Homo sapiens: one gene and its partners. The main gene of each other region encodes a partner of the protein of the gene in region 3 in a complex. Each region holds a gene or a part of one and is shown on either strand. Other genes may lie near its edges.

The links. Proteins that work in one complex are often made in the same cells at the same time.
Region 1: DKC1 (region 3) and NHP2 share a complex: the UniProt entries of both Homo sapiens proteins name them as parts of the H/ACA small nucleolar ribonucleoprotein (H/ACA snoRNP) complex.
Region 2: DKC1 (region 3) and WRAP53 share a complex: the UniProt entries of both Homo sapiens proteins name them as parts of the telomerase holoenzyme complex.

What each region holds. Positions count from the first base shown.
Region 1 is NC_000005.10:178,150,886-178,158,438, reverse strand, and holds the start of NHP2 (H/ACA ribonucleoprotein complex subunit 2), read left to right. Parts: upstream 1-4,553; 5' UTR 4,554-4,621; coding exon 4,622-4,781; intron 4,782-4,878; coding exon 4,879-4,948; intron 4,949-7,445; coding exon 7,446-7,551; intron 7,552-7,553. UniProt on the Homo sapiens protein: Required for ribosome biogenesis and telomere maintenance. Part of the H/ACA small nucleolar ribonucleoprotein (H/ACA snoRNP) complex, which catalyzes pseudouridylation of rRNA.
Region 2 is NC_000017.11:7,698,444-7,704,002, forward strand, and holds the end of WRAP53 (telomerase Cajal body protein 1), read left to right. Parts: intron 1-2,297; coding exon 2,298-2,386; intron 2,387-3,015; coding exon 3,016-3,106; intron 3,107-3,213; coding exon 3,214-3,346; intron 3,347-3,900; coding exon 3,901-4,109; intron 4,110-4,299; coding exon 4,300-4,403; intron 4,404-4,549; coding exon 4,550-4,684; intron 4,685-4,799; coding exon 4,800-5,043; 3' UTR 5,044-5,059; downstream 5,060-5,559. UniProt on the Homo sapiens protein: RNA chaperone that plays a key role in telomere maintenance and RNA localization to Cajal bodies. Specifically recognizes and binds the Cajal body box (CAB box) present in both small Cajal body RNAs (scaRNAs) and telomerase RNA template component (TERC).
Region 3 is NC_000023.11:154,772,857-154,778,215, forward strand, and holds the end of DKC1 (H/ACA ribonucleoprotein complex subunit DKC1), read left to right. Parts: intron 1-274; coding exon 275-393; intron 394-1,745; coding exon 1,746-1,849; coding exon of another isoform or gene 1,850-1,853; exon of another isoform or gene 1,854-2,338; coding exon 2,339-2,417; intron 2,418-3,330; coding exon 3,331-3,468; intron 3,469-3,942; coding exon 3,943-4,011; 3' UTR 4,012-4,833; downstream 4,834-5,359.

The DNA of each region.
Region 1 (7,553 bases), on a different chromosome or scaffold from region 3:
TAAAGGGTACAGCGTTTCTTTTTTCTTTTCTTTTTTTTTTTTTTTTTTTGAGGTGGGGGTCTCACTGTGTCACCCTGGCTGGAGTTCATTGGCACAATCACAGCTCCCCACAGCCTTGATCTCCCAGACTCAGGTGGTCCTCCTGCAGGTTAGTCTCGATCTCCTGGGCTCAAGAGATTCTCTCCTGGCCGGGCGCGGTGGCTCACGCCTGTAATCCTAGCACTTTGGGAGGCCGAGGCGGGTGGATCACGAGGTCAGGAGATCGAGACCATCCTGGCTAACACAGTGAAACCCCGTCTCTACTAAAAATACAAAAAATTAGCCAGGCGTGGTGGCGGGTGCCTGTAGTCCCAGCTACTCAAGAGGCTGAGGCAGGAGAATGGCGTGAACCCGGGAGGCGGAGCTTGCAGTGAGCTGAGATCGTGCCACTGCACTCCAACCTGGGTGACAGAGCAAGACTCCGTCTCAAAATAAATAAATAAATAAATAAATAAATAAATAAATAAATAAATCCTCTCCAATTTTTTAAAAGATGGACCTTAGTCCATCTAGATCTAACTTTCTCACTTTATGGTGAAGCACTGACGCCCAGAGAGGCTAAATGACTTGCCTAAAGTCATTTGTCATTTAGAGCTCTGGACCAGTGTCCATTAATTTTTATGTTATCAGCCACTGTACACTGCTTAAAGTAAACTCAGCTGGGCACAGTAGCTCACACCTGTAATCCCAGCACTTTGGGAGTTCGAGGTAGGCAGATCACGTGAGGTCAGGAGTTTGAGACCAGCCTGGCCAACATGGTGAACCTCTGTCTCTACTAAAATACAAAAGTTAGCCAGGTGTGGTGGTGCATGCCTGTAATCCCAGCTACTTGGGAGGCTGAGGCATGAGACTCGCTTGAACCCGGGAGGCAGAGGTTGCAGTGAGCCGAGATTGCGCTACTGCACTCCAGCTGGGGCAACAGAGCGAGACTCCATCTCAAAAAAAAAAGAAAAAAGAAACAAAAAAGTAAGCTCAAATAGCCATTCCAACAAAATCCATAAAGTAATAAAGTCATGCAAAACAACCTGGGTTCAGAACAGATTTCTGAGTCTGGCTTTAGAAATACACAATGTGTTGGCTGGGCGCAGTGGCTCACACCTGTAATCCCAGCACTTTGGGAGGCCCAGGCAGGCAGATCACAAGGTCAGAGATCGAGACCATCCTGAATAACACAGTGAAACCCCGTCTCTACTCAAAATACAAAAATTAGCTGGGCGTGGCCGGGCGCAGTGGCTCACACCTGTAATCCCAGCACTTTGGGAGGCCGAGGCGGGTGGATCATGAGGTCATGAGTTCAAGACCAGCTTGGCCAAGATGGTGAAACCCCGTCTCTACTAAAACTACAAAAATTAGCTGGGTGCAGTGGCAGGCGTCTGTAATCCCAGCTACTCGGGAGGCTGAGGCAGGAGAATCGCTTGAACCCGGGTGGTGGAGGTTGTGGTGAGCCAAGATCGTGCCACTGCACTCCAGCCTGGGCGACAGAGTGAGACTCTGTCTCAAACAAACAAACAAACCAACAAAAATTAGCTAGGTGTAGTGGCAGGCACCAGTAGTCCCAGCTACTCGGGAGGCTGAGGCAGGAGAATGGCGTGATTCCAGGAGGCAGAGCTTGCAGTGAGCCAAGATGGGGCCACTATACTCCAGCCTGGGTGACAGAGCGAGACTCCGTCTCAAAAAAAAAAAAAGATAAGAAATACACAGTGTGTTAACAACAAAAAAAGAAAACAGGCCAGGTGCGGTGGCTTACATCTGTAATCCCAACACTTTGGGAGGCCAAGGCGAGTGGATCACTTGAGGTCAGGAGTTCGAGGCCAGCCTGGCCAACATGGTAAAACCCTATCTCTCCTAAAAGTACAAAAATTAGCTGGGCATGGTGGCGGGTGCCTGTAATCCCAGCTACTTGGGAGGCTGAGGCAGTAGGATCACTTGAATCTGGGAGGCAGATATTGCAGTGAGCTGAGATCATGCCACAGCCTGGGTGACAAAGGGAGACTCTGTCTTAAAAAAAAAAGGGGGCCGGGCGCGGTGGCTCATGCCTGTAATCCCAGCACTTTGGGAGGCCGAGGCGGGCAGAACATGAGGTCAGGAGATCGAGACCATCCTGGCTAACACGGTGAAACCCTAGTGAAACCCCGTCTCTACTAAAAATACAAAAAATTAGCCGGATGTGGTGGTGGGCACCTGTAGTCCCAGCTACTTGGCAGGCTGAGGCAGGAGAATGGCGTGAACCTGGGAGGCGGAGCTTGCAGTGAGCCGAGATGGTGCCACTGCACTCCAGCCTGGGCCAAAGTGCGAGACTCCATCTCAAAAAAAAAAAAAAGAAAAAAAAAGAAAAAGAAAACACTGTGGTTTTCTGAAGACATATTTGTTCTCAGCACTTCATTGTCTTATGGCTCAAAATGCAGACACGTGTGACCTGGGCCAAGCTGAGGTTCCTACACTTTCACTATTTACGTATCCTTTTGAGCTGAAGTCAAATGTCAAATCACAGGTATGGGTAAAGTCTGGGCTTGGAGACAAGTGGACCTGGGTTCAAATCCAGCTTTGTGTGAGCTGTACCAAACTATTCATCTTTATGTGTGTCAGTAAATTGTGAATATAAAGTTATATATTCCTGGTAAAAGGATGGTAAAGTCTTTACCTTTACCATAGAGGTATTTTTTGGTGAGCACTGAATGAGATATTGTATATAATATGCTCGCCACATAAATGTTAACTTTCTTTTTCCTTCCATGTAAGAGCTGAAGGGACTTCACAACCGAGGCTCTGAGTGAGGTCAGTCAAGCGAGCCCATTTGTTTGAATTTGTTTGAACTGGGTTCTCAGGAGTGAAATTCTCCATCACTCTGCTGGACAGAGTGATTTTTAGTAGAGACGGGGGTTTCACCGTGTTAGCCAGGATGGTCTCGATCTCCTGACCTCATGATCTGCCCGCCTCGGCCTCCCAAAGTGCTGGGATTACAGGCACCGCGCCCAGCCTATTTGTTTTTATTTAATGCAAAACAAAATTTATTGCACTTTAGTTCAGAGTTACAAGGTTTTTGTTGTTGTTGTTTTGTTTTAGAGACAAGATTTTCCTGGGTGGCCCAGACTGGAGTGCAGTGGCTATTCACAGGTGCAGTCATGGCTCACTGAAGCCTCTAACTTCTGGGCTCAAGCGAGCCCCCTCTCAGCCTCCCGGGTAGCTGGAACCACAGGCACGAGTCACCACACCCGGGAAAGGCCAATTTTTAAGTTGGTTTAACTGACCTGTGTTCCCACCCACAACTACCGGAACACTTCTAAGTTTCTACTTACTGGCCTGTTCCAGCAACACAAAAATGGCAGGCCTGCCACATCAGGATCAAAGGTAATTAGTATTACAAATTAGTAATTTGCAGCGATTATCTAATTAATATCCATCCAGAGTTCCAAAATATAGTGGAAGAGGCTAATCAGAGATACCAAGATCCACTGGATCTCGGCCTGCCACCGCCCCCCACGCCCTGGCAGCTCTGTCCCTTTACCTTCTACAGACCCGTCCAAAGGGTAGCTCCTCATAGCTCTCACCCTGCACGGCAGGGAGCTCAGTCCCCAAAGCCTTCCCTCCGCTGTTCCCGGCTTCGCTGGAGCCGTCCTTCCCTCAGCCCCGGCTGGCTTCTCGGCTAGGCCCTCTGCATGTGTAGCGTCAGGCAATGGTAAGAACTGCGGGAAAATAGCGGGTGAAGGGATGCTGGTTTGGAGAGAGAGGGGACGGCAATTTTAGATAAAATCACCAGGGAAACCTCTCCCATGGGAAACACTGAAACGGAACCCTGCGGGATGAGAGTGAGCCACACGCTATCTGTGGAAAAGCGGTGCAGACGCAGGTCAGTGGGGTCATCCCTTGCTCTGTATCTTTCACACCTGCGCAGCCGGGTCCAGGGGTCAGAAAACAAAGAAAAATTATGCAAGAAAGGAGGCAGCCTTAGGCCGGGCGCGGTGGCTCACGCCTGTAATCCCAGCACTTTGGGAGGCCGAGGCGGGCGGATCGCCTGAGGTCAGGAGTTCAAGACCAGCCTGACCAACATGGAGAACCCCTGTCTCTAGTAAAAATACAAAATTATCTGGGCGTGGTGGCGCATGCCTGCAATCCCAGCTACTCGGGAGGCTGAAGTAGGAGAATCGCTTGAACCCGGGAGGCGGAGGTTGCAGTGAGTCGAGATTGCGCCACTGTACCCCAGCCTGGGCAATAAGAGCGAAACTCTGCCTCAAAAAAGAAAAAAAACGAGGCAGCCTTTCCAGCACCCAGAGCCCCGCCCTCTCCGGCCCCGATTCCCAGGGCTCCGCCCCTTGCCTCACATTCCCTCCGCTCCGCCCTAATCGGTTCCGCCCAGTCCCTTGGTCCGGGGATGGCCCCGCCTTAAGGACCATGACTCCGCCCCTCTCCGCTCTCCGTAGTTACGAAGCTGGGCGTCAACGATTGGGCTGAGTCGGAGACTTCCTTTCCTGATTGGCCGTGTTGTACGGCGGCTTCTCGCGCAGCTGATGACCTGGAAGTGATGCCTAAAGCTGTGGACCGCGTGGGCTCGCCTCCCTGGGACTAGGTTTCAGCGGCCGCTGCGATGACCAAAATAAAGGCAGATCCCGACGGGCCCGAGGCTCAGGCGGAGGCGTGTTCCGGGGAGCGCACCTACCAGGAGCTGCTGGTCAACCAGAACCCCATCGCGCAGCCCCTGGCTTCTCGCCGCCTCACGCGGAAGCTCTACAAATGCATCAAGAAAGGTGAGGCGGACGGCGGCGTGGCCGGGATGGGTGCGCGGGTGGGATGGGTGCGCGGGTGGCTGAGCGAGGCCCCCGACCGACTCTTCTGTCGTTGCAGCGGTGAAGCAGAAGCAGATTCGGCGCGGGGTGAAAGAGGTTCAGAAATTTGTCAACAAAGGAGAAAAAGGGTAAGAACCTTCCTTCCTCTGGATTTTGCATTTCTAAACGTTAACGGAGAAATCTCTACTTAGTAGGCGCGCAGTAAAAAGGTTAACTCTGACCTAGCCCCATATACAGAAGCCAATCAAGCAGTCGGTAAAGTCCCTTTGGTACAATACCGGTACGACAATACCGGTACACCACGTATACCAGCTCAAAGTGAATTCCAAAGTGAAGCGAATTGTGTAAGCAAAGTCCCTTAGAGTAAACCCACCTTCATTAATTCAGGGACCCTCCTCCCCGGGCTCCGCTCCTTGCCTCAGATTACCTCCGGCCCCCGCCCTAATCCTCTCAGCCCTGAATCTCAGTCCTAGGGATGACCCCTCTCCGGCTCTGTATTTAAGGAACTGAACGTTAACGTTTTTGTTTGTTTTTGAGATGGGTCTAGCTCTCACCCAGGTTGGAGTGCGGTGGTGCGATCACAGCTCGCTGCAGCCTCGTCCCCCTGGGCTCAAGCGATCCTCCCACCTCAGCCTCCCGAATAGCTGAGACCACCGGCTTGCGCCACGCCTGGCTGTTGTTATTGTTGTTTTGCAGAGACAGAGGAGTCTCGCCATGTTGCCCGGGCTGGTCTTGAACTCCTGGGCTCAAGGAATCCTCCTGCCTCAGCCTCCCGAAGCGTTGGGATTACAGGCATGAGCCACCGCGCCTGGCAGCCTTAACAATTGAATGTACTCTTTTTCAGGCACTGTGTTATGGGGGAAACAGTGACATTCATTCATCAGATAATGACACACACACAACTAATTACACGTTGTGATAGATAGCCATGAAGGAAAATAACAGAGTGCAATGATAACTTCATCACCCCACTTTTCTTAATGGCATTTATCAAAGTTTGAACCTTGTTTACATTTTTCTTCCCTTTATCACCCTCTCAGGCCAGATGGTAAGCTCCTTCAGAACAGGGCCTCCTTGCTTTATCCCAAGAAGTGAAACTGTAGGTGCTCAAGAGATCAATAATGTTGGGCAGACTTGATGCTCAACGGCATCTAACCTAGCTGGGGAGGGCGCATCTGGGGAAGTTTCCCTCAGCAGTCACATTTGAGCTGAGGTCTTAAGACACAGGGATTAATTGGGGGGTGGGTGGGAGGATTCTGCCAGAAGAAAGAGTGGGCCTCTGGGCAGGAGAGGGTCTGGTGAGCAGAAGTGCTACCTTCTTAGGGGGCCTTGTAGGACACAGTAAATTTAGTTTTTATACTCAGCACTTTGGAGGCTATTAGGGGTTAAAGCCAGGAAGTGACATAATTTTTATTATTTTTTACACCCTAAGATTTTTCTGACAATTGAAGAAAGGATTAGAGAGGTACGAGTAGGTTTGGGAAAGTTCAGGTAGTAGACTACTGTAGTCCTGGAGAGGTGATGGTGGAGACAGAGTTAAAGGGGACAGATTTGAAAGGACTTTCAGATGTGGAGAATGGGGAGGTATTGACGACTTCTAGGTTCTGACATGCCCAGCTGGAGGGACAGAGGGCCCAATCTTGAGATGTGAACAGTGGAGGGGGACCAGATTTGTGTAGAAAGATCACAAATTTGGGTCTGGGTAAGTTTTTGAGGTGCTGTAGAGACACATGACTTCCACCCCGCCCCACACCAGGAGAACTGTCAAACAGGCAGATGGCTATAGGGGTTTGGAGCATGGAAGAGAGAGGGCCAGGCTGGAGATAGTACATCTGGGAGTTTTCAGCACATAGATGGCACCTGACCCCATGGCAGTGGCTCCGGTCAGCCAGGAAGAAGGTCCTGAGAGGAGAGGGCAGCCGAGGACAAGGCTGTGAGGAACACTCACAGTGAAAGGCGCTTAACAGAAGGGGAGCCAGCAGAGGGCCCAGAGGAGCACTAGGAGTGCGGAAGCATTCTTTCAGCCGAGGGCTCTGTCCTTGTGTGTCCGCCTGTTATCCAGCATGGGAGAGCAGACTTTTCCTTCTGTGTCTTAGGCTCCTGAGGCCCTTGCCCCCCAGCCTTGACACCTGGCCAGCTAGGAACCCTGGCTGAGTCTCTGGCAAGCTTTCATTGCCTCACTGTCACTCTTGGGACAGAGCCCATGCTTCTTAGCCTGGTACTCAAGGTCTTGGGGGTGTCCCCTGCCAGTCTCTCGGCTGTGTCTGGTGCCGTTCTGATTCTCACACCACATGCTCTCCCCCGCCCCAGCCCCTCCGTGGGCTGCCTGCCACACAGTCATCCATCAGCGTGCTGTTCAAGTGTCACCTCCTGGTTGAACCCTTTTTTGACTCTCCAAAGAGAGCTGAGCTCATACACCTTGGCACCCATCCTGTACTTCACCTGTCCGAGCACTACATCACTTTGGTGGCACCTGTATGTTGCCAAGAGGTAGAGATCACCCCCAAATAGTGTGCTCACCAAACACAATTTTGTCTCTATCCCTAAGACCCAGCCCAGGGCAGCACTTAAAACTGAAAGAAGGAAGGAGCAAGCCAGAGATGACAGTGTTTTCTCTCATTTCAGGATCATGGTTTTGGCAGGAGACACACTGCCCATTGAGGTATACTGCCATCTCCCAGTCATGTGTGAGGACCGAAATTTGCCCTATGTCTATATCCCCTCTAAGACGGT
Region 2 (5,559 bases), on a different chromosome or scaffold from region 3:
AGTCTAGGCCGGGCATGGTGGCTCATGCTTGTAATCCCAGTGCATTGAAAGGCTGAGGTGGCTGGATTGCTTGAGGCCAGGAGTTTTAGACCAGCGTGAGCAACACAGACCCCTGTTTCTACAAAAAAATAATTTTAAAGATTAGCCGGGCAGGCTGGGCGTGGTGTCTCATGCCTGTAATCCCAGCACTTGGGAGACTGAGGTGGGTGGATCACGAGGTCAGGAGTTCAAGACCAGCCTGGCCAAGATGGTGAAACCCCGTCTCTACTAAAAATACAAAAAAATTAGCCGGGCGTGATAGCAGGCGCCTGTAATCGTAGCTACTCAGGAGGCTGAGGCAGAGAATTGCTTGAGTCTGGGAGGCAGAGGTTGCAGTGAGCCAAGATTGTGCCACTGCATTCCAGCCTGGGCGACAGAGCGAGACTCCGTCAAAAATAAATAAATAAATAAATAAATAAATAAATAAGCCAGGTATGGTGGCTTATGCTTATATTCCCAGTTACTAGGGAGGCTGAGGCCAGGGGATTGTTTGCTTGAGCCCAGGAGTTTGAGGTTTCAGTGAGATGATTGCGCCACTGTGCTCCAGCCTAGGCAACAGAGTAAGACCCTGTCTCTAAGAAAAGAAAAAATTAAGTCTAAAGACCTGCAAGACAACGTTAGATACTGTTTTTTTTCCCATATGAATATACTCCTAGGCTGGGCGCAGTGGCTCACACCTGTAATCCCAGCACTTTGGGAGGCTGAGGCAGAAAGATCACTTGAGGCCAAGAGTTCGAGACCAGCCTGGCCAACGTGGCGAAACCCTGTCTATACTAAAAATACAAAAAATTAGCTGAGCATGGAGGTGAACTCCTGCAATCCCAGCTACTCGGGAGGCTGAGACACAAGAATTGCTTGAACCTGGGAGGTGGAGGTTGCAGTGAACTGAGATCGTGCCACTGCACTCAGCCTGGGTGACAGAGTGAGACTCTGCCTTTAAAATTAAAAAAAAAAAATTTATATATATATATATATTTATATATATATATATATTTATATATATATATATATATATATATTTATATATATATATATATATTTATATATATATATATATTCCTAAGGAAATGTATGACAGTGATAAATTCAAGATAGTGTTTACCTCTGAGGGAGAGTTTCTGTTAGGAAAGGGGTTTAAACATATCTTTTTGTTCAGCTGGATGGAGGGGTCACAGGGCTGTTTTTTTAATAAGATACTTTGTATGTTTGAACTGTTTAATTTTTTTTCTTTATTTTTGTAAGGAGGTTTTTTTGTTTCCATTTTTGTATTTTTGAGACAGTGTTTCTGTTGCCCAGGCTGGAGTGCAGTGGCAATGATCTCAGCTCACTGTGGTCTCTATCTCCTGGGCTCAAGCAATTCTCATGCCTCAGCCTCCCTAGTAGCTGGGACTACAGGCATGCACTACCATGCCCAGCTAATTTTTTTTTCTTGTAGAGACAGTGTTTCACCATATTGCCCAGGCTGGTCTTGAACTCCTGGGCTCAAGTGATCTGCCTGCCTCAGCCTCCCTAAGTGCTGGGATTACAGGTGTGAGCCACTGTGCTCAGCCGATAATTTTTTTCTTTTCTTTTTCTTTTTTTTTTGGGGGGCACTGTCTCTCTGTCACCTAGGGTGGAGTGCAGTGGTGCGATCTCAGCTCACTGCAACCTTTGTCTCCTGGGTTCAAGGGATTCTCCTGCCTCAGCCTCCTGAGTATCTGGGATTACAGGTGTCCACCACCACGCCTGGCAAATTTTTGTACTAATATTTTTTTAAAGGATCAAATGGCACCTAGCATGTACTCAGTAAGTATTTGAATAATTGGTTGGTTCTTTGTCTCTGGGTTGAGGTATTATTATTTGTTTCTTCCTCTCTAAGTGTTTATAAAGAAAAAGTATAAGGCCCGGCACGGTGGCTCACACCTGTAATCCCAGCACTTTTGGAGGCTGAGGCGGGTGGATCACCTGAGGTCAGAAGTTTGAGACCAGCCTGGCCAACATCATGGTGAAACCCTGTCTCTATTAAAAAAAAAAACAAAAACAAAATTAGCCAGGCATGGTGGTGCATGCTCTGTCTCAAAATAATAAAAAAAAAAAAGTATGAATCTATATGGCTTTTGGTGGCTAAATTTGACATTAAAGTCTGAGCTCACCCTTGAACATTGAGACAGAGTCTGTGCTCCATATATACACCCCATCTGCCACAACACTGCTAGAGGCACGCGCCTCAGACTCCTTTTCCCTCCGAGTGACTCAGCCATTCCCCCGTCTCTGTATAGGTCCCTGTCCTTCGAATGGTGGAAGGTGATACCATCTATGATTACTGCTGGTATTCTCTGATGTCCTCAGCCCAGCCAGACACCTCCTAGTAAGTAATGTTTGCCTCCCTGCTCGCCGCCCCACCACCCAGTTTCAAGCAGGGCCTCTTGGGAGAGTCAAGGGCTGCCAGGGGTCTTTGGAGGAGGAAGGCTTGGCATGCTTATCAGAGGGGCTGGTCAGTTGGCTTCCTCCCCTTCCTTTTTTTTTTTTTAGATTGAGTCTCCCTCTGTCACCCAGGCTGGAGGGCGGTGATGCAGTCTCAGCTCACTGCAACCTCCGCCTCCCAGGTTGAAGTGATTCTCCTGCCTCAGCCTCCTGAGTAGCTGGGATTACAGGTGTGCACCACCACACCCAGCTAATTGTGTATTTTTCATAGAGATGGGGTTTCACCACGTTGGCCAGGCTGGTCTCGAACTGACCTCAGGTGATCCACCTGCCTTGGCCTCCTGAAGTGCTTGGATTACAGGCATGAGCCACCACACCCAGCCTCATTTTTGTATTTTTAGTAGAGACAGGGTTTCACCATGTTGGCCAGGCTGGTCTCGAACTCCTGACCTCAAGTGATCCACCTGCCTTGGCCTCCCAAAGTGCTGGGATTACAGGCATGAGCCACTGTGCCCGGCCATTCCTCCCCTTCCTTTGACAGCACCGGGGTTTCAGTGTCCATGTCTCTCTCAGCGTGGCCAGCAGCAGCCGGGAGAACCCGATTCATATCTGGGACGCATTCACTGGAGAGCTCCGGGCTTCCTTTCGCGCCTACAACCACCTGGTAGGGACCGCCATACTCAGCCCCAGCACTCGTACTGGCCCGGCTCTCCTTCCTTGAGGGCAGCTGAGGCTTTGCAAGACCTGTTTTCAGCCCTTTCCTTCCCCCAGGATGAGCTGACGGCAGCCCATTCGCTCTGCTTCTCCCCGGATGGCTCCCAGCTCTTCTGTGGCTTCAACCGGACTGTGCGTGTTTTTTCCACGGCCCGGCCTGGCCGAGACTGCGAGGTCCGAGCCACATTTGGTAAGCATCTGTGCCTCCAAGGGAGGAGGAGAGGGAAGGGCACTGCCACCTGCACAGGGGCCTTTTGTGAGCCGGGGGCCACCTGTGGGGGTTCACGCCGTCCTCTGTACGGCCCCGGGAGCAGGTGCAGCCCAGTCGGCAGAGGAGCAAACAGGCTCAGAGCAGGTAGGAAACCTTCCCAAGGCCAACCAGCTGGTCAAAGGACTGCTTCCTTCCTGAACTCATACCCTGTCAGCTGTGGAGCTTTTGGTCTCTGAAATCTTTCTAGAAAATTGTTGATAAAGCTGATTCCGTTTTCCTGTAGGCCTTCAACTTGCATCTCTCCAAGGAAGAACTGGGATTTGAGAGGGATGAAGTGGGGCTTGGGCATTTAGGTCCTTTGGGAGGATAGATGTGGGGAGCATCAGAGGTCTTTGTCCTGCTTGTGACAGACAGCATGGGGGGGATGTTGAGTCCAAGCATGTTGGTGCTGGGACGGGAGACAGACCTCTGCTTAGCCTGGTTAGTGCCAGGAGCCATTGCCCCCTCCCCCACTTTGTTCCTTCCCTCTCTAGCAAAAAAGCAGGGCCAGAGCGGCATCATCTCCTGCATAGCCTTCAGCCCAGCCCAGCCCCTCTATGCCTGTGGCTCCTACGGCCGCTCCCTGGGTCTGTATGCCTGGGATGATGGCTCCCCTCTCGCCTTGCTGGGAGGGCACCAAGGGGGCATCACCCACCTCTGCTTTCATCCCGATGGCAACCGCTTCTTCTCAGGAGCCCGCAAGGTAGGGGTCACACCCTGAGAGCCCAAAGCAGCTGGGCAGCGGGGCAGGAGCAGGGATGTAGTCTGCAGTGTAGGGGAATGGGTGGGGATGGGGAAAAAATCCCAAGCTGAAGGAGTGCCTGGAGACCCCGAGGGAGGCAGGGACATCCAGGGCTTTGGGGGTGACTCCAGGTCCTGTTCCTTGTCTCCAGGATGCTGAGCTCCTGTGCTGGGATCTCCGGCAGTCTGGTTACCCACTGTGGTCCCTGGGTCGAGAGGTGACCACCAATCAGCGCATCTACTTCGATCTGGACCCGTGAGTGGCTGTGACTCCTTCCTACACAGGGCCCTGATAAGCCTAGGAATGCCAGAGCCCAGCTGTAGGGTCCCAGTCCCTGGGTGTGAGGGGTTCCTGCCCCAGGGGTGAGGCCTCTGCCAGCAAATCTCTCCTCTCTCTCGCAGGACCGGGCAGTTCCTAGTGAGTGGCAGCACGAGCGGGGCTGTCTCTGTGTGGGACACGGACGGGCCTGGCAATGATGGGAAGCCGGAGCCCGTGTTGAGTTTTCTGCCCCAGAAGGACTGCACCAATGGCGTGAGGTCCTCAGTTCAATTCCAGAGATGTTGGGGCTTGGGTTGGGGAGGGAGGTGAATCCCAGAGGGAGCAAGTGTCCTCACTGAAGGCACTGATAGACCCTCCCCATCTCTCCCTCAGCCTGCACCCTAGCCTGCCTCTCCTGGCCACTGCCTCCGGTCAGCGTGTGTTTCCTGAGCCCACAGAGAGTGGGGACGAAGGAGAGGAGCTGGGCCTTCCCTTGCTCTCCACGCGCCACGTCCACCTTGAATGTCGGCTTCAGCTCTGGTGGTGTGGGGGGGCGCCAGACTCCAGCATCCCTGATGATCACCAGGGCGAGAAAGGGCAGGGAGGAACGGAGGGAGGTGTGGGTGAGCTGATATAAAAAGGTTTTTATGATACTAGAGTCTTCGTGTCTGTTTTGGGGGGGCATATGAGTGAGGTGGGGGACCAGGCAGGGGGACTGGCGGGCTCCCTGGTCCAGCAGCAGTGGGTATGGCATATTGGTCCTGAAACCAGGCGTTGAGAGGTGGGACCAGGCAGGAGCCAATGGGGCGGCTGAGCTTGGTGTGAAGTCAAGTGGGTGGGGGTGGGGCTTCATGCCATTGACTGGTTGGTTGCTAGGCAACTTGGTAAACTGAAGGGGGAAACCTGTTTGAAATCTCACTCCCAAGGTGGGGGCGGCAGGGGTCAGGGTGAGCGGGGCTGAGCAGGAGCTGGGTCAGACTGTTGGGTGTGACCGTGTGAGACTGTGCAGACAGTGACAGGGCGCCTGTCGCCCACACTCCACACTGTTTGCCATTCTCCAGCAGCATGGGGACCATTACTCAGCTCTGAGGGGAGCAGGAGCACTCTCCTCCGCTCCCCGGGGCTCCCCAGGAGGCAGACAACCCAGTTGCCA
Region 3 (5,359 bases):
ATAGACGTCTTGAGCTGCAAGCCTGTTATGTGTATCGTTAGGTGCTTTGGTTAGGTGTTTTTTAACTTCAGAAGTTTAACGTCATTTCAAAGGCCTCCTTCTCATAATGGAGTATTTCCTCCATATGCACATCCTGAGCAAAGGTAACCCCAATTAAAGTAGTAGCTCAGAGTTTTAAAAGTTTTAAAGTGGCATACAACAGTAGAATTGGGGCTCATCAATTATCAATTCTTTCACCCTTCAAATAATTCTTTTCTTTATTCAATGCCTGTAGCTATTGCATTAATGACCACAGCGGTCATCTCTACCTGCGACCATGGTATAGTAGCCAAGATCAAGAGAGTGATCATGGAGAGAGACACTTACCCTCGGAAGTGGGGTTTAGGTCCAAAGGTAAGTGGTACTGGGTTGCGTGCCCTGCCAGGTTCTTTTTTTTTTTTTTTTTTTTTTAAATTTATTTTTTTATTGATAATTCTTGGGTGTTTCTCACAGAGGGGGATTTGGCAGGGTCATGGGACAATAGTGGAGGGAAGGTCAGCAGATAAACAAGTGAACAAAGGTCTCTGGTTTTCCTAGGCAGAGGACCCTGCGGCCTTCCGCAGTGTCTGTGTCCCTGATTACTTGAGATTAGGGAGTGGTGATGACTCTTAAGGAGCATGCTGCCTTCAAGCATCTGTTTAACAAAGCACATCTTGCACCGCCCTTAATCCATTTAACCCTGAGTGGACACAGCACATGTTTCAGAGAGCACAGGGTTGGGGGTAAGGTCACAGATCAACAGGATCCCAAGGCAGAAGAGTTTTTCTTAGTGCAGAACAAAATGAAAAGTCTCCCATGTCTACTTCTCTCCACACAGACACGGCAACCATCCGATTTCTCAATCTTTTCCCCACCTTTCCCGCCTTTCTATTCCACAAAACCGCCATTGCCATCCTGGCCCGTTCTCAATGAGCTGTTGGGCACACCTCCCAGACGGGGTGGCGGCCGGGCAGAGGGGCTCCTCACTTCCCAGTAGGGGCGGCCGGGCAGAGGCGCCCCTCACCTCCCGGACGGGGCGGCTGGCCGGGCGGGGGGGCTGACCCCCCCCCACCTCCCTCCCGGATGGGGCGGCTCCTGCCAGGTTCTTTTGTTTGGCATTGTTGAATACTTGGGCAGCTCTTGGTGTGTTTCACCACCACAGCCTTGTATTGTGCTGGGCTCTGGGTTGTCGATGAGTGGAAACAGGCCCTGTCTTGGGCCTTAGAGATTTCAGTCTAATGAGGGGAAACAGTTGGGCATTACTCACGTAATCACACAGTGGAATGGCGAATTTCATGCACGTTAGTGGCTACCAAGGAGTGCAGAGAGGTGTCTGTCACCTGGAGTGTCCACAGTGGTCAAGGAGTCTGGTCAAGGGATTGTCTGTTAAGCCACACCGGTGTGAAGAGTGGGTTAGGTGTTGGTGAAGTGAAGAGGGGAGGGGAGAGTTCAGGGCATTGGGAGCAAGCAGCATGTGCAAAGGCAAAAAAGTAGAGTGGCTGCGGTGGGGACGTTATGTCTGCAGAGGCTCTCACTAATAAGCTTTGTGATCTTCAACAAGTCCTGTGTGTGTTGGAGTTAGTGGGCAAATTCTGAATGCTCTGGAGAGGAGTTTGAGGCCCTGCTGAGAATACACCAGGGAGGAACCTTGTTCTATTCTTTGTAGTCACCATGCCCGCTTCCAGCATTGACACCATTCTAATGTTGACACCTTGATGTTCCACCAGGCAAGTCAGAAGAAGCTGATGATCAAGCAGGGCCTTCTGGACAAGCATGGGAAGCCCACAGACAGCACACCTGCCACCTGGAAGCAGGAGTATGTTGACTACAGGTGAGGGCAGGATGTTTCAGAGCCGGGGTGGGTAGAGACGGCACACTTGCTGCCTTGATGCAGGAGTATGTCAACAACAGGTGAGGATGGGAAGGTAGAGCCCACTTGCCATCTGGACGCAGGAGTACATGGACAACAGGTGAGGAACAGGTGAGCATGGAGGTTGTAGAGCCCAGGGGAGGGGGAGTCACTTGGTTTGGGGCAAACTTGCTAAATGCAGGACCACAGGAACCAGCTCTTCAGCTCCCGTGAGATTTTGGCTGCCCAGGCCAGTTAGGGGTGTGGGCCTGCACGGCAGACAGTTATCCCTTTCTAGTCTGGCTCGTGGGACTCTAGAGGGAGTCAGTCTGCAACAGTAAGTGGTGAGTTCTTCTGTCCAGCGTCAGTATTTTGATGGTGGCTTTAGACTTGCCAGATAACACTACATAACATCAGTACTGCCCTGGAAAGCCATTCAGTGAATTTGACCTATTGCTACCTCTTTTTCAGTGAGTCTGCCAAAAAAGAGGTGGTTGCTGAAGTGGTAAAAGCCCCGCAGGTAGTTGCCGAAGCAGCAAAAACTGCGAAGGTGAGTGGCATGCTGTCCTCAGTTTGGAATGTGCTTAGGGAGATAATCCTAAGAGGCACTGGCATTCGTCTTACTTTGTGACTGTCCGCAGTCCAGCCATATACGCTAGCATCAGAGGTGCAGCGCATACACAGGTAATGCTGCCTCATACCCTGGGGTGCTTGTTTGGGCTCTGCAGGCTCCTCTGATTTGTATTCTCTGTCCTATCTGCTGGGAGGAGGAATGTGGGCTCAGGAATCAGATGGGCCTCGACTCCTACCTCAGCTATGGCAGCAACACAGTGATGGAATGGGTGGTGGTGTGTGTGTCAATTCTGGCCCCCGCCCTGGGTCAAATGGTAGGACAGATGTGTTGAAATCAGAGGCCATGGCTGTTGGACATTCGAGGCCATACAAAATTCAGCAGAGAGCAGAATTGCATCTTAACCTGGCACCACCCAGTGTTGAAAGAGTCAGTCAAGCATGGGTTGGCAACTCCACCCCATGGAGCTGCTGGCATTAGAGCACAGAATGACAGGTCTGCACTCAGAAACCGGGGGCGGTACTGAGTATCCTGCACAGGCTGTGTGGGAGGAGCTTCTGACTTGTCAGATGTGAATTCCTGCTTTGCCTGCTTTCTGTGAGAGGTCCTTGCAGTCATGAGAGAAACAGCTCCTCCGGGCCTTTCCACCCCAAGCCCCGTGCTGCTGCTGTGCTCCTTCTCTTGTGCCTGCCTCAAGGCTTCTTGGATTTGGGGGATGAGACTGTCTTCAAATCCTCAGTAAACTAAGGCCCTGTCCGGGTTTGTAGTCAGAAAACGTCCTGTTAGATTCAGTTGGGATCTTTCTTGGTGCCTTGCTACCTTTTGACTCACTGAACCTTTCTTGTCCATTATTGCCCAAGATCTAACACTTAACCAATTGCTTTCATCTCAGCGGAAGCGAGAGAGTGAGAGTGAAAGTGACGAGACTCCTCCAGCAGCTCCTCAGTTGATCAAGAAGGAAAAGAAGAAGAGTAAGAAGGACAAGAAGGCCAAAGCTGGTCTGGAGAGCGGGGCCGAGCCTGGAGATGGGGTGTGTGGAAACACGTTCAGGTTCCTTGGGCTGGCTTAGTCCCTGCGTGGGGAAAGAATTACCCAGGTGGTACCAGCTTTGTTACTCTTCTTGGAGGAGCTGTGGCCTGGGGGTGGGATGCCACCGAGTGCCTTTAGTGCTTCCCCATGTTCCTGGAGTGCTTTTGCCCTCCCTGTGGAATGGACAGATAGAGGCACCCGACCTCTACCACTTATACTTAGAGCTCTATTGATGGTGGGTGGAGAGGATGTGTAGGATGGTGATCTGAATGTTTCCACTTCCAAAAGTAGACCACTAGGGTGTCACTGAAAGGTTTACAGAACTTTGTGTCACATGCAGCATTTAACCCAAAATATCCTTACAGGTCCTGAAAAAGGCTTGCTTGACTGTGGACCTTTACCAGATTTCCTTCTGGGAGAGTCATAGCTTTGTTAGTGGATGGTATCTGTGAGCTTTCATTCTCTTTCTTTCTAGGACAGTGATACCACCAAGAAGAAGAAGAAGAAGAAGAAAGCAAAAGAGGTAGAATTGGTTTCTGAGTAGTGAAGGCCACTTGAAGCTGGAGGAGAAACTAAAGCCTTATTGAGAAAACATGTTATAGATCCTTTTGTTGCTGAGAGAGTGGAACATAGGTCCTAGACAGGGTGAAGAGTTCTGGCACATTTTAGCTGCTACTTTGAGACCTCGGTGATGTTACCTGGTGTGGTCATCCCATCTTGTCCTGTTTTAAGGATATGGGTGGTGAAAGATGAAAGAGGCAGAGTTTATCCCAATGACTTCTCTGTTTGAGTTGGGAAGCCTCACCTTCAGACCCAGTAACTGTCCGCAGCTGTCTGCTAGTGGTTGTCTTAACATCGTAGTCCTAGTTTGCATTTTTTAAATCCCCTCTGTTTAAAAGGTTTGTAAAACAAAAACAAAAAACTAAGTCTGCTCAGTGAAATGCTGTAGAACCCTAAATAAGTGGTAGAAGAGTGTCACTGAATTTTGTCTCTGAATTCAGTATAACTGAGTTTTGTCCATGCTGGTGTCTGGGTTATAGGCCTGATGGGCCTGGTAGTTTTCCATCTTGTTCTGGCCTAGAGGTCAGTCCTTTGCACTTCCTCAAAGCTTGTGTACAGTGCTCACCTAAATCCATCTGACTACTTGTTCCTGTGCCCTCTTGTTTTAGGCCTCGTTTACTTTTAAAAAATGAAATTGTTCATTGCTGGGAGAAGAATGTTGTAATTTTTACTTATTAAAGTCAACTTGTTAAGTTTTTTATGTATTCCTGTTGGGTTTTCTTGTTGATCTCATGCTAGCAGAGCAAAAATTGTAAAATATTTTGATTAAAAATCTAGGGACCTTTATGTCCTATTTGAAATGTGATGCTTTTATGTTTGTTTTCTGGTTTTTACATTTTTGTTCTGTATCTTACACAATCCACCTTGGGCCCTGTCATCTGATGTGAGATCAAGTACTCAGAGGCAGTGATTACCACAAAACCACTGATCTCTAGAAGAACAGAGAAGGAGAGGGTTAATGTATTTATACATAGTGGGCCTGGCAGGAGCGGGGGGCAGGGTGAGTCGGGAGAACGAAGCTGAGGGTGGGGACATGCAGGAATCTGAAGGCCTTGGTGACAGATTAGTGGAAGAAAGGTCTAGGGTTGCTTCCGATTTGGTATTAAGAACCAAGAAAGAGGCCGGGTGCAATGGCTCACACCTATAATCCCAGTGCTTTGGGAGGCTGAGGCGGGCAGATCACCCGAGGTCAGGAGTCTGAGACCAGCCTGGGCCAACATGGCAAAACCCATCTCTACTACAAATACAAAAATTAGCCAGGTGTGGTGGCGTGTGCCTGTAATCCCAGCTACTCGGGAGGCTGAGGCAGGAGAATCCCCTGGAACCTGGGA